Homo sapiens: one gene and its partners. Changing the gene in region 3 together with the main gene of any one other region gives a genetic interaction. Each region holds a gene or a part of one and is shown on either strand. Other genes may lie near its edges.

What was found.
Region 1: changes in KIF14 (region 3) and PPP2R1A together harm fitness more than expected from each alone (negative genetic interaction), as found in Homo sapiens cells (one large-scale study listed by BioGRID).
Region 2: changes in KIF14 (region 3) and SNRPG together harm fitness less than expected from each alone (positive genetic interaction), as found in Homo sapiens cells (one large-scale study listed by BioGRID).
Region 4: changes in KIF14 (region 3) and ERH together harm fitness more than expected from each alone (negative genetic interaction), as found in Homo sapiens cells (one large-scale study listed by BioGRID).

What each region holds. Positions count from the first base shown.
Region 1 is NC_000019.10:52,224,552-52,228,051, forward strand, and holds part of PPP2R1A (serine/threonine-protein phosphatase 2A 65 kDa regulatory subunit A alpha isoform), read left to right. Parts: intron 1-1,165; coding exon 1,166-1,257; intron 1,258-1,413; coding exon 1,414-1,430; 3' UTR 1,431-3,500. UniProt on the Homo sapiens protein: The PR65 subunit of protein phosphatase 2A serves as a scaffolding molecule to coordinate the assembly of the catalytic subunit and a variable regulatory B subunit.
Region 2 is NC_000002.12:70,283,741-70,287,240, forward strand, and holds part of SNRPG (small nuclear ribonucleoprotein G), read right to left. Parts: exon of another isoform or gene 3,458-3,500; intron 1-3,457. UniProt on the Homo sapiens protein: Plays a role in pre-mRNA splicing as a core component of the spliceosomal U1, U2, U4 and U5 small nuclear ribonucleoproteins (snRNPs), the building blocks of the spliceosome.
Region 3 is NC_000001.11:200,614,252-200,617,751, reverse strand, and holds part of KIF14 (kinesin-like protein KIF14), read left to right. Parts: coding exon 1-140; intron 141-2,142; coding exon 2,143-2,397; intron 2,398-3,346; coding exon 3,347-3,434; intron 3,435-3,500. UniProt on the Homo sapiens protein: Microtubule motor protein that binds to microtubules with high affinity through each tubulin heterodimer and has an ATPase activity. Plays a role in many processes like cell division, cytokinesis and also in cell proliferation and apoptosis.
Region 4 is NC_000014.9:69,391,800-69,395,299, forward strand, and holds part of ERH (enhancer of rudimentary homolog), read right to left. Parts: intron 3,114-3,500; coding exon 3,026-3,113; intron 1-3,025. UniProt on the Homo sapiens protein: May have a role in the cell cycle.

The DNA.
Region 1 (3,500 bases), on a different chromosome or scaffold from region 3:
ACCCATTTGCTGGGCCTCAGAGACTTGGGGGTTCTGAGATTCTGTTCCACTTTCCCAGCCTGCTCTGATCTCCCTGTTTGGGGCCCCAGTCCTTGTTTATCATACTTCTGACCTTTAAGTAATTGGTTGGTTGGTTGGTTTTTTGCAGTTTGTTTGGTTTTCCTTTGAGGCAGAATCTCGCTCTGTCGCCCAGACTGGAGTACAGTGGTGCGATCTCGGCTCACTGCAACCTCTGCCTCCTGGGTTCAGGCAGTTCTTGTGCCTCAGCCTTTCAAGTAGCTGGGATTACAAGTGTGCACCACCATGCTTGGCTAATTTTTGTACTTTGAGTAGAGATGGGGGTTTTCCCATGTTGTCCAGGCTGGTCTTGAACTCCTGGCCTCAAGTGGTCTGCCCACCTTGGCGTCCCAAAGTGCTAGGATTACAGGCTTGAGCCCCCGTGCTCGGCCTTGAGTTTACCTTTTTTTTTTTTTTTTTTTTTTTGAGACGGAGTTTCGCTCTTGTTGCCCAGGCTGGAGTGCAATGATGCAATCTTGGCTCACCACAACCTCCGCCTCCCAGGTTCCAGCAATTCTCCTGCCTCAGCCTCCCAAGTAGCTGGGATCACAGGCGTGCACCACCACGCCCTGCTAATTTTGTGTTTTTAGTAGGGACAGGGTTTCTCCATGTTGGTTTGGCCAGGCTGGTCTCAAACTCCCAACCTCAGATGATCCACCCACCTTGGCCTCCCAAAATGCTGGGATTACAGATGTGAGCCACCACGTCCGGCCTGATTTTACTTTTAATTGACTCATAATTTTATATATTTATGGGGGTATAGTAGTGTTTCAATAATGTGTGCAAATGTGTAATGATCAAATTAGGATAATTAGCATATCTATCACCTTAAATGTTTACTGTTTCTTTGTGATGAGAACATTCAAAATCTTCTCTTATAGCTGTTTTGAAATATGCAAAATGTTATTATTAACTATGGTCACCCGCCTGTGCAGTGATCAGAGATTTCTAATTCCTGTGTGTGCCCTGGATTCTTGAGACTCCTCCCACCTTGGGTTTGGTGTATCCGTGTCTGTGTACACTCTCTTGCCCAAGAGCCCTGTGCCCACCTGTTGCCCCAGTCCATCCTGGCTCACCCTCTCTCTCCCTGTCTCCTTTCGCTTTCCAGCACCTTGCAGAGTGAAGTCAAGCCCATCCTAGAGAAGCTGACCCAGGACCAGGATGTGGACGTCAAATACTTTGCCCAGGAGGCTCTGACTGGTAAGACCTAGAAAGCACGGAGCCCTAGCAGGAGGGTGGACTTTGAGGACAGGCACTGGGCCTGTGGGCAGCAGCTTCTGGGAGGGGGAGGTACCTTGGCATTGTGGGCAGAGAGAGGGCTCTGGTTCTGATTCTTGCCTGTTCCTGTTTTCCTAGTTCTGTCTCTCGCCTGATGCTGGAAGAGGAGCAAACACTGGCCTCTGGTGTCCACCCTCCAACCCCCACAAGTCCCTCTTTGGGGAGACACTGGGGGGCCTTTGGCTGTCACTCCCTGTGCATGGTCTGACCCCAGGCCCCTTCCCCCAGCACGGTTCCTCCTCTCCCCAGCCTGGGAAGATGTCTCACTGTCCACCTCCCAACGGGCTAGGGGAGCACGGGGTTGGACAGGACAGTGACCTTGGGAGGAAGGGGCTACTCCGCCCACGTCAGGGAGAGATGTGAGCATCCCGGGTCACTGGATCCTGCTGCTGTAATGGGAACCCCTCCCCCATTTACTTCTCCACCTCCCGTCCTCCCCATCATTGGTTTTTTTTTGTGTGTCAACTGTGCCGTTTTTATTTTATTCCTTTTATTTTCCCCCTTTTCACAGAGAAATAAAGGTCTAGAAGTAGTTGGTCCTCTGGCCTTAGTCATCAGCTTGGAGGAGGGGGCACCACCCCAGAGCCACAACATCTGCGCTTTTCTCTGGAGAAGATCTTGTTACAGGACCCATTATACCCCTATGTCCCGAAAGAATACTCTGGGGATCCCCCCAGGAGTGCTGCTGGCCTTTGGGGTAGAGGGTCCATGAGGTGCTCTGGGTGGTGTCCTGTAGTGCAGTTCAGATTCATAGATGTCGGCCGAGTATTTGGGGGGTTAAGAGCAGGTGCCTTGGAACCAGACTGCCTGGGTCCAAATTGTGGCTCCTTCAGTTAATAGACGTGTGACTAGGAGTAGCTTGTTAAGTCTTTATGAGCTCAGTTTTGTATTGTGTAAAATGAGAGTTACAGTAATACCTAGATTGCAGGGTGGGTGGCGAGGACCAAGTGAATTAGTACCTGGAAAGTGTGTAACAGTTTCAACATGAGAAGTACACAACATGAGAAGCAGAGTTAGCTGTACATTGCCAGAGAACCCCCTGTGGGCCATTTCCTGTGTTCTTGAAGAAGACTTGGGCTTGGACCCTGTCCCCAGGAGGTCTCAGAGTAATCAGGACGGTACTAGGGAGAGAACTGTGGCAAGATAGATCAGTTATCTCGGTATCTATTCTCCCCTTCCTAATGTAGAAGCTCTGATTTTTAACTGGGCAGATGACTACATGGATTCAAGGTATTTTCCTAGTGTCTCTTGAAATTAGGTGTGGTATTGTGACCAAATTCTAGCCAAAAAGATGTTGAACAGAAGTGGTATATGCAGCTTCTAGGAAGTGTTCTTAAGGGGGAAGGCGTCATCCCCCACCTTTCCTCCTTCCTGCACTCTGGAATGTGGACCAGATGGCTGGAGTAGGAGCTGCCACCTGGGGCCAGAAAATGATCTTAGGCGTGAAGGTCAAGTAAGGCAGGACAAGAGAGAAGGAGCCTGCCTCCCCGAGGCTGTGAAGAGCCATGCCAGTACTGTCACCTGGGAGAATTAAACTGGTCAAGTGCCTGTTCGTTTAGGGTTTCATCACTTGAAGGTGACCGGAATTCTAACTGATGGAGGGAGGGGCCCAGAGCACCCTGGAGAAAGGAGCAAGGGACGTATGGCTGGTGGTGTCTGCATGGAAGGGTTTCACAGAGGAAATGATGCTTGAGCACATTTTGACCCAGGTGGTGGAAGGGAAATGTGGCTTTGAGTGACAAGGTGATTTCACCAGCTCAGCCTTCATATTACCACATCCCTACCCTTTGTTAGACTTTATTGTGCCCTAGGGGATGAGGCTGAAGGAGACCAAAAAGCATCTTTAGAAATTTCCATTTATGCCCTGGGCGATAAACTCTCTCCCAGTTGAGAACTACTGCTCTAGAAATGTGAACACACGTGTAACCAAACGTCAAAGTCTGACATTAAACTTTGACTTTCCCCATGGTTAACGCTGCTGGTCCATTGTAACAAGAGTGCAGTGGACCAGCAGCCTTTGCATTCTCAGGAGCTTGTTAGAAATGCAGAGCCTCTCGTCCCTGCCCCGACCTGCTCAGGCAGAGCCTTCATTTTAACAAGATGCCCAGGTTCATCTGCACACTGAAGTTAGAGAAGTCCTGCCTTAAATACTAACCCAGTTTTTC
Region 2 (3,500 bases), on a different chromosome or scaffold from region 3:
ATGATAAGGTAGTAAAGAGCAGATTTAAAAAAGAATGGCTGGGCATGGTGGCTCACGCCTATAATCTCAGCATTTTGAGAGGCCCAGGTGGGCAGATAGCTTGAGCCCAGGAGTTTGAGACCAGCCTGGGCAACATGGTAAAACCCTGTCTCTACAAAAATACAAAAATTAGCTGAGGGTGGTGGTGCACACCTGTGGTTCCAGCTACTCGGGAGGCTGAGGTGGAAGGATCAACTGAGCCCAGGGAGGTTGAGACCACAGTGAACCAAGCTCCATGCTACTGCACTCCGGCCTCGGTGACAGAGTGAGACCTTATCTCAAACCAACAACAAAAACCAGTAAACACAGTGCCCTGAAAATGACAATGGGAACTGAAAGAGTCTAAAGATTGACACTCTTCTTCTAAGTTAACAGAGCTCCCCTCCATTTTTTTGAGACTGGGACTAGCTATGCTGACCAGGCTGCAGTGCAGTGGCTATTCACATGCACAATCACTGCACACTGCATCCTCGAACTCCTAGGCTCAAGTGGTTCTCCTGCCTCTGCCTCCTGAGTAGCTGGGACTATAGGCGCACATCACCATGCCCAGCATAAGCCAGGAGTAGAAACATGCTTACCTAGTTATCAGAATTTTATTTTCATTTTAATTATTATTTTTTTTGAAACAGGGTCTTGCTCTGTCACCCAAGCTGGAATGCAGTGGTTCAATCACAGCTAACTGCAGCCTTGACCTCCTGGGCTCAAGTGATCCTCCCACTTCAGCCTCTCAAGTAGCTGGGACCAGAGGCATGAGCCACCAAGCTGGGCTAATTTTAAAATTTTCTGTAGAGACAGGGTCTCACCATGTTGCCCAGGCTTATCTCAAACTCCTAGTCTCAAGTGATCCTCCTGCCTTGGCCTCCCAAAGTGCTGGGATTACAGGTGTGAGCCACTGTACCTGGCCAGTTATCAGAATTTTAAATTCTCAATTTTTTTTTTGGCAACAGATATTGAACATCACATCTCATTGACCAAAGCAAGAAAAGCTAGCCTTCCTGCCTAGCTCCCTGCTAAATTTACATATTTGTCTTGTCACATAATATTTAGAAAATAAGGCTAAATGGTGAACTTTGTCCCACCTTATCTGTGGTCCAAAAACATTAAATGCATAGTCCCAGCAACAGACATCCGTAAGTTTTACACTGCATGCTGTTCTTAGCAGTGTGATGATACCTCATACTGTCCCTGGATGTGGATTATCCTTTGTCTAGCATCTCCATGCTGCCCATTAATCAGTTATCTCAGTTTTATGATTGACTGTTGTGGTATCAAAGGGTTACTTGTGTTCAAGTAACCCTTTTTTTAACTTAATACTAGCCTGAAAGTATAAGAGCAGTGATGCTGGCAATATGGATATGCCAAAGAGAAGCTGTAAAGTGCTTCCTTTAAGTGAAAAGGTACAAGTTCTTGACTTAATAAGAAAAAGAATCATATGTTGAGACTGCCAAGATTTATGGTAAGGACGAATCTTCTATCTGTGAGATTGTGAAGAAGTAAAAAGAAGTTCGTGCTGGCCAGGCGCGGTGGCTCACGCCTGTAATCCCAGCACTTTGGGAGGCTAAGGCAGGTGGCTCATGCGGTCAGGAGTTTGAGACCAGCCTGGCCAACATAGTGAAACCCTGTCTCTACTAAAAATACAAAAATTAGCTTGGCGTGGTGGTGTGCGCCTGTAGTCCCAGCTACTCGGGAAGCTGAGGCAGGAGAACTGCTTGAACCCAGGAGGCGGAGGTTGCAGTGACCCGAGACCACACCATTGCACTCCAGCCTCGGTGACACAGTGAGACTCTGTCATACACACGCGCGTGCACACACACACACACAGAAATTTGTGCATAGGGTTCACTACTATCTGTGGTTTCTGGTACCTACTCTGAGGATAAAGGAGGCCTATTGTAGTGCTCTTCCTCTTTTGCCACTGTGTTTGAGGCCTAATTCTCCAAATCAAACTTGAACCATCAGGTCCAGAATTACATACTGCTCCCTTTTTTGTGCTTCAATGATGCTACAGAAGGACAACCCTAGCAAGAGTGCCTGAACTATGTAACATAATAAAAAGTAAGATAGAGGCGATGCCACTGACAACTCTGGGGATGTCTCAGAAGATAGTTGAGATTTATCATTAGGTAACGATCCAACTGACAGGTTAAAAACAAACTCACTCCTGAAAACAAACACATCCTTTTTGAGACAGGATCTCGCTTTGTCACAAAGATTGGAGTGCAGTAGTGTGATCTCAGCTCACTGCAGCTTTGACTTCCTGCCTCAGCCTCCTGAGTAGCTGGGACTACAGGTGCACACCACCATGCCCGGCTAATTTTCTAATTTTTTTGTAGAGATGAGGTCTCACTATGTTGCCCAGGCTGATCTCAAACTCCTGGGCTCAAGTGATCCTCCTGCTTCAGCCTCTCGAAGTGCTGGGATTATAGATGTGAGCTACTGTGCCCAGCCAACACACACATAACTGCAATAAAACAGTATTAAGTAATTTCAATGGCCTCAATGGATCACTGACTTGGACAAGGTAATAATGAAGCCAACTGTCCTTTGTTAAACAACTTCTAACAAAATAACAAAACCTTAACCTATTTGTTTCCCTTCTTCCAACTTTAGAAAAGTCAAAAAGTTCATCTCTGTTCTTGCCTTTTAAAATGTCTTTTATTAAAGAAGTCTGATGTGTTATTATTTCTTTTTCAAAGTGAAGACTCAGCAGCAAGAATTACTGTCTGCTGATAAAAACTTTTTTTTTTCTTTGGCTGGGGGTTGGGGGGCGTGTGTGTCACATAAACCTCAGAGATGGAACAGGAGGCTGCCCAACACACTAAGTAGGTAATCATTACTTAAATGACTTGGGATGGCAGTGCTTTCAACCAATTTCTGTGCAAAGAAAATAAAGTCCATAAAGTTTAGGGGGAAAATTGCCAGAGGGATGCTCTATTCCTTCTCTGATAAAATTCCAATGAGCAGTGTGTTACATAATTCTCTAATCTTCTCAAAGCAGAATTGACAATTAGGTGCCAAGTTCTTCCTGAATCCTTTTCAGCAAATTTTTTGCAAGGAACTAAAAACCTAATCTACCTTCTATTAGAATGAAAATTTATTTGTAAAAATAAGGGCTGAGAGGAAAATCTTGGGGTATCTAGAAAATGTTTTTAAAAGGACTTGGCTACTAATCATGCTGGCAGCCTTATTCAACAGAAGCTCACAAGGGAATATACCTGAAAGACAAGTCAATTTACATGAAACTTGGGGGTACAGTGTGGTATCTGGAGACTCTAAACTGTTTTTTCAGTCATAACTATTGATTTGCTTTTCAAAATACAGTAATGAAAAAGTATCTGAAATAAGTAATAACACAAACCTTGGAAAGAATGGTATGTAAAAAAATTAAACAGGCAGAGATGTCAAAATAGGTCTATCTTCAACTTTACTGCTCAAACTTAAAAATCAAGGTTAATAAATCA
Region 3 (3,500 bases):
AAACAGGAAAGATCCGCAGAAAATACAATTCTTCCCGAAGAAGAAACTGTAGTTCAGAACACCTCTGCAGGAAAAGACCCCTTAAAAGTAGAGAATAGTCAAGTGACAGTGGCAGTACGCGTAAGACCTTTCACCAAGAGGTATGTGATGCCTTTTAAAATCTAAAGCCAAGCAGTTACATGTAAGGTACCTTTAATTCCTCTCTGCCTTTGGAAGGTCAGTGTATTCGTGCATCTTCAAACTTGTTGGCAATACTTTTATATAGAAAGAACTTTTAGGTCTAGTTGTAGTGTGTGTTGATAATTTTTGATCACTGACTATAAAATTAAAAAATTGAATCACCATATTTTGTATATTGAAGTTTCTCTAGATATATTGCTTTTAAAAAGTCTGAATAAGTCACTTAGGTCTCTAATGAAATCTGCTTTCAGATCTGCAATATATGCTGGAATGTTATACCTATCCCTTAAAAAGAGCCATAACAGGCCAGGTGTGGTGGGTCACGCCTGTAATCCCATTGCTTTGGGAGGTCAAGGCAGGCAGATCACTTGAGGCCAGGGGTTTGAGACCAGCCTGGCCAATATGGTGATACCCTGTCTCTACTAAAAATACAAAAATTAGCTGGGCATGGTGTTGCACACCTGTAATCCCAGCTACTCGGGAGGCTGAGGCAGGAGAATCACTTGAACCCGGGAGGCAGAGGCTGCATTGAGCTGACATCAGGCCACTGCACTCCAGCCTGGGCGACAGAACGAGACTGTCTCAAAAAAAAGAAGAGCCATAACAAATTACTGGTTCCCTAAAGAGGTCCTTTCAAAACCCTTTCCAGAGTGGTGATTATCATCATCATTGTCTCCGATTACTATATAGTAGTTATAAATGCAGTGATACATTAGATTTGATTTTGATGGCAAAAAATCTCTCTCTAAAAGTGGTTGTGGGTGGGGAAGACACAGATTAAAGATAAGGTTGGAAAAGATGGACATGACAAAATGTGAATGTGACAAAATGTAATTGTTTTAAAATATTTTAATGTAGTTGTTTAAAATATTTTAAGGGACAGTGAAAAACTTCACAGAGTTAGTAGTGTTTAACTTGAAGCTGTGTATCTAAGCAAGTTAGAAGAGGATTTGGTGACCACTGCATCAGGGCAGGAACCTCCAGTTTGAACCTAAGGGGTCAGTAGTTAAAGGCAAGTTATACAGTACTGTAGAATCTTTTTCGTGCAAATGGGTTAGTATTAAGAGGGAGAACTGAGGGTGAGTTGGTTTGAGAGAATTGGAATGTCTAATAGAGCCTCAAGAACCATGATAGGAAGAGAAACAATAGAAAGAGCTGGTAGGGACAAAATGCAAGATGGATGACTATACTGAACTTAGTAAGGGACCAAGTGCCTGATTCCAAACTCATCAGACAAGCCTTGAAAGCAGGGCCAGGGTAGAGTACTTGTCAAATTGATGAGGCAGGTGTTTTTTCCAGAATAAATTCTGATTTAAAGCAGTCTCAGAGTCAGGGATGGAGCGGGGAGGGAGTGTATATCTGGAGCCAGACAAAGAGTGATGATGTTTTTCTGTAGATCTAAAGTAAATGAAAGATTTCCACCTAAGTCTCAAAGGGAAAAAGGATATACAGAAAGATTCATGATTTTAAGGGAGAGAATCTAGAGGAAGGAGGAGAGATCTTTAGTAGCCAAGAGAGACTTATGATTGAAACTTACAGTCAACTGAGTTTGTTAAAATTAGATATTTGTATTTTATGCCAGCTTTATTTAGATTGGTACCCCCCCAAATTTGTATAATAAAGATGTAGATTTGGATGAAGAGTATAGGTAGATTATAGTAGGTGGGATGGGAAAAGGTATAGTTCAAGAGAAAAAAAAAAGAGGAAAAAATCTTGTAAAAGTAGGATAGGTTTTCTGGAGGAATCTGGGATTTTCCCTTTGGTGGCACTGGAGCCTCAGGAAATATATTTTGGAAACCCACTAGAATTATGTTTGCTTATCTGCATTTTCCACATAAAACTACAGAATTATCTTGCCTTGGAAGATTGTTTAAATAGTTTTGAGGTATTTATTATGTTCTGTGAGAATAATACCCTTGATCATTTTAGTTACTTGATTTTTTTCTTTGTGCTTCTTTCAAGAGAGAAGATTGAAAAAGCATCCCAGGTAGTCTTCATGAGTGGGAAAGAAATAACTGTGGAACACCCTGACACGAAACAAGTTTATAATTTTATTTATGATGTTTCATTCTGGTCTTTTGATGAATGTCATCCTCACTACGCTAGCCAGACAACTGTCTATGAGAAGCTAGCAGCACCACTCCTAGAAAGAGCCTTCGAAGGCTTCAATACCTGTCTTTTTGCTTATGGTCAGACTGGCTCTGGAAAATCATATACGTAAGTTGTATTGGAAATGCAATTATCCAGAAGTGTTTAAATATACTTTTGTGAGAAGTGGCATAGGGGTGATAGAAAGAATATAGTTTTGAAATCACACAGATCTTGGCCCAAATCTCATCCATTTTATATACCAGTTCTGCAAACTTGGGCAATTTACTTAGCCTCTGGGCTTCAGTTTATACATTTACCTTGATACAATTCATCTTGTAATTATCATTGGCCCCATTTTACTGTACTTTATATATTTTACATAAACTAAGGCCTAGAGAGGTTATCTTTTAAGTATTTTGGTGAGAATTAAAAGTAAGGCATCTAAGCTAGATGTGATGGCACACACCTGTAGTCTCAGCTACTTGGGAAGCTGAGGTAGGAGGATTGCTTAAGTGCAGGAGTTCGAGTCCAGCCTGGGCAACTTAGTCCCCATCTCTTAAGAAAAAAGGGTGGAGGGGCATCTGATAAATGGTAGCTATGATAATAATACCTGTCCTAGAAAGAAATACTCAGCATTTTAACAGTAGCTAACATTTGAGTTCTTTTTTTTTTTTTTTTTTTTTTTTTTTTGTAGCAAGGTTTGTTGTGAAGAGCGAAAGAACAGAGCTTCCACAGTCCACAGCGTGGAGGGGTCCCAAGCGGGTTGCCCAACATTTGAGTTCTTACTATATTCCAGACACTGTGCTAAAGACTTTGCTTATATTCTTTCACAACAATTCTCTGAATTAGATAGTTGTATTATTCCTGTTTTACAGTAGAGGAAATTGAAGTTTAGTGAGGTTAAATATCTTGGAGTCAAGATTTGGACTCAGGCAGATTTGACTCCAGAGTCCAGATTCTTAATTATGAGATTCAGTGAACTTGCTTCCTACTCCCTTCCCAGCCTATTTCCCCAAAAAGAATTTTAAAGAAAGAATTAGTTTTATTTCCCCCTTATTCATAATGTATTTTTCAGGATGATGGGATTTAGTGAAGAACCAGGAATAATTCCAAGATTTTGTGAAGATCTTTTTTCTCAAGTAGCCAGAAAACAAACCCAAGAGGTATGTTCTTATAATACCTGCAAGCTTCTTTTCAGAGTAGAAAATAGTCAAATCAAGTTCAAATCA
Region 4 (3,500 bases), on a different chromosome or scaffold from region 3:
GTGGCAGGGAAGGAGGTATAGGTGGAGCAATGGGGATTTCTGGTAGTGAAACTACTCTGTATGATACAGTAAAGGTAGATACACGTAATTATACATGTCAAAACCCACAGAATGTTCAACACATACAGTAAACCCTAACATAAACTGCGAACTTTAGTTAATAATAATCTATGAATATTAATTCACCAATCCCAACAAGTGTAATCAGACTAATAGAAGATGCACTAATAGGGGAAACTAAGAAGGGGAGGAAAGAAGGCGTATGCTGGAGCTCTGTACTTTCCAAACAATTTTCCCATAAGCCTAAAACTGCTCTAAAAACATGGTCTTAAATAAAGTCTTTAACTGCTCTTAAAAAAAAGGGGGGAGGAAAAAAATGCTCTGATCTACAGGGGAATATTTACTACAAGAAAAAAAAAAAAAGAATAATAAAATTACCATTTGGCAACCACATCATGTGAGAACTTATTTAATAATTATTTTAACATTTTTTTGTTTTAGTTTTTTAAATGGGAAATAAATCACCACTTTTAATTTTTAGAAAAAGAGCTACCAAGTCATGAAAAGACATGGGGGAAACATAATAAATGCACATTGCTAAGTAAAAAAAGCCAGTTAAGAAAAAGCCACACACGATAATGATTCCAACTATATGACATTCTGGAAAAGACAAAACTATGGAGACAGTAAAAAGACCAATGGTTCCCAGAGGTTGAGGGTGGGGTAGGAGGGGATGAATAGGTAGAGCACAAGAAATGTTTAGGGCAGGGCAGTGAAACCATTCTGTGTGATGCTGTAATGGCGGACACATGACACTGCGCATTTGGGAAAATCCACAGTAATGTAGGACATAAGAATGAAACCTAGTATGAACTATGAACTTTACTTAATGACAATGTATCAGTAATGAATACTGGTTCACCACTGTTACAAATGCACCACACCAGTGAAATTCATTAATAATAGGGGAAATTGTGTAGGGGTGAAGAAAGAGAGTAATATCGGAAAAACTGTAGTTTCTGTTCAATTTTTCTAGAACCCTGAAACTGCCCTGAGAAATAAGAGTATTGCAGAATCAAAGACCAAACATGATAATGTAGGTTAGGTAACAATTTGCTAAGAGAGCCTGCATACAAAATCTACATCAATAGCAGGCAGAAATGTCAGCAGAGAAATGGATCTGTAAAGAGATGAAGAAAAAAATGCCATGTTCTTCTTTAAGAATTAGAGTAGATGGCCTGGAGTGGTGGCTCACGCCTGTAATCCCAGCACTTTGGGAAGCCGAGGTGGGTGGATCACTTGAGGTCAGGAGTTCGGGACCAGCCTGGCCAACGTGGCGAAACCCTGTCTTTACTAAAAATACAAAAATTAGCTGGGCGTGGTGGCACACACCTGTAGTCCCAGCTACTGAGGAGACTGAGGAAGGAGAATCATTTGAACCAAGAAGGCAGAAGTTGCAGTGAGCTGAGATGCACCACTGCACTCCAGCCTGGGCGACAGAGTGAGACTCTGTCTCAAAAAACAAAAAGAAACAAAGACACCTGCACTCATACGTTTACGGCAGTACTATACACAACAGCAAAGTCATGGAATCAACTACGTATCCATCAATGGATGACTAGACAAAGGAAATGTGGTGTATGAGAATGCATGCACACACATCCCATGGAATACTACTCAGCTATTAAAAAAAGAATAAAACCATGTCTTTGCAGCAACATGGATGGAATTGGAGGTCATTATCTCAAGTGAAGTAACTCAGAAAGTCAAACATTTAATGTTCTCATTTATTAGTGGAGGCTAAATGATGTGTGCACATGGACAGACAGAGTGGAATAACTGACACTGGAGACTACAAAAGGTGGGAGAATGGTGAGGGATGAAAAATCACTACTGCGTACAATGTACACCAGGTGATGGCTACAATAAAAGCCCAGACTTGGTTGGCGCGGTGGCTCATGCTTGTAATCCCAGAACTTTGGGAGGCTAAGGCAGGAGAACTGCCTGAGGCTAGAAGTCTGAGACCAACATGTGCAACACAGTGACCCCATCTCTATAAAAAAACCAAAAAATTAGCCAGGTGTGGCGGCAGGTGCCTCTAGTCCCAGCTATTTGGGAGGCTGAGGCAGGAGGACTGCTTGAGCCCAGGAAACTGAGACTGCAATAAGCCATTATCACCACTGTACCCCAGCCTGGGTGACAGAGCAAGACCCCGTGTCTTAAGGAAAAAAAAAAAAAGGCCCAGACTTTACTACTATGCCATATATCTATATAAGAAGACTACACTTGTATCCCTTAAATCTATTAAAACAACCTATTAAAAACAGACAGACACACAAGCCTATAGTGTTTGAGCTTAACCAGAATATATAAGGGATACCTGTAAAATATTTCCATACTGTAACAAAATAACATGTGACAAATAAGAAGAGAATATTTATAAAACAACAAGCAGCTCTGGAAAGTCACTCATTATATACATTAGTTTAAAAAAAAAAAACACCTAATACTTGTAGCAAGGAGGATACTATATACATAATTAATGTTTAAAATGTTCAACCGGCCAAGGCGGATTACTTGAGGTCAGGAGCTCGAGACCAGCCTGGCCAACATGGTGAAACCCCATCTCTACTAAATACACAAAAAATTATCTGGGTGTGGTGGCCCATGCCTGTAGTCCCAGCTACTTGGGAGGCTGAGGCACAAGAGAATCACTTGAACCTGGGGGGCGGAGGTTGCGTAAGCCGAGATCGCATTACTGCACTCCAGTCTGGGTGATAGAGCGAGACTCTGTCTCAAATAATACATAAATAAACAAACAAATAAATAAAATGTTCAATAATTATGGTCCATCCTAAATATCTGCTTTCCCTCCTAAAATTAGCAATTCAATAAATTTGGAGGGTTGGAAGTGATAAAGGCAGGGCCTGGGGTGGATGGACTATTAAAAAAAAAAAATTTGGAGGGGAAAAACCCAGTTCCTAAATGAGACATTTTTCTACCCCTTGATTAGTGTTAAACTCACCTTCCATGCATTCATTCACAGATTCGTAGTCAGCATAAGTTCTGCCTTCTGGCCTCTTGGTAGGCTGTACCAGCAAAATGGTGTGAGACTGCAGGGGAAAACATGATTTCAATATAAGTTTCTATTTGAGAAATTCATAGTATGATAAAAAAAAATCCCCATTTGTAATGCAATAATGATTGCTAGTTATTAAAATGTAATTAGAGAGGCCAGGCATGGCATCCCATGCCTATAATCCTCATCCTCTGGGAGGCTGAGAGGGGGAAAATCACTTGAGGCCAGAAGCTTGAGACCAACCTGGGCAACATAGCAAGACCCTGTCTCTACAAAAAAATAAAATTTGCCGGGTGCATGCCTGTAGTCCCAGCACTTTGGAAGTCTAAGGCAGGAGGATTCCTTGAGCCCAGGAGGCTGAGACTGCAGTGTGCCATGATCACACCATTGCATCGGAGAGTGAGGCCCTATCTCTTAAAAG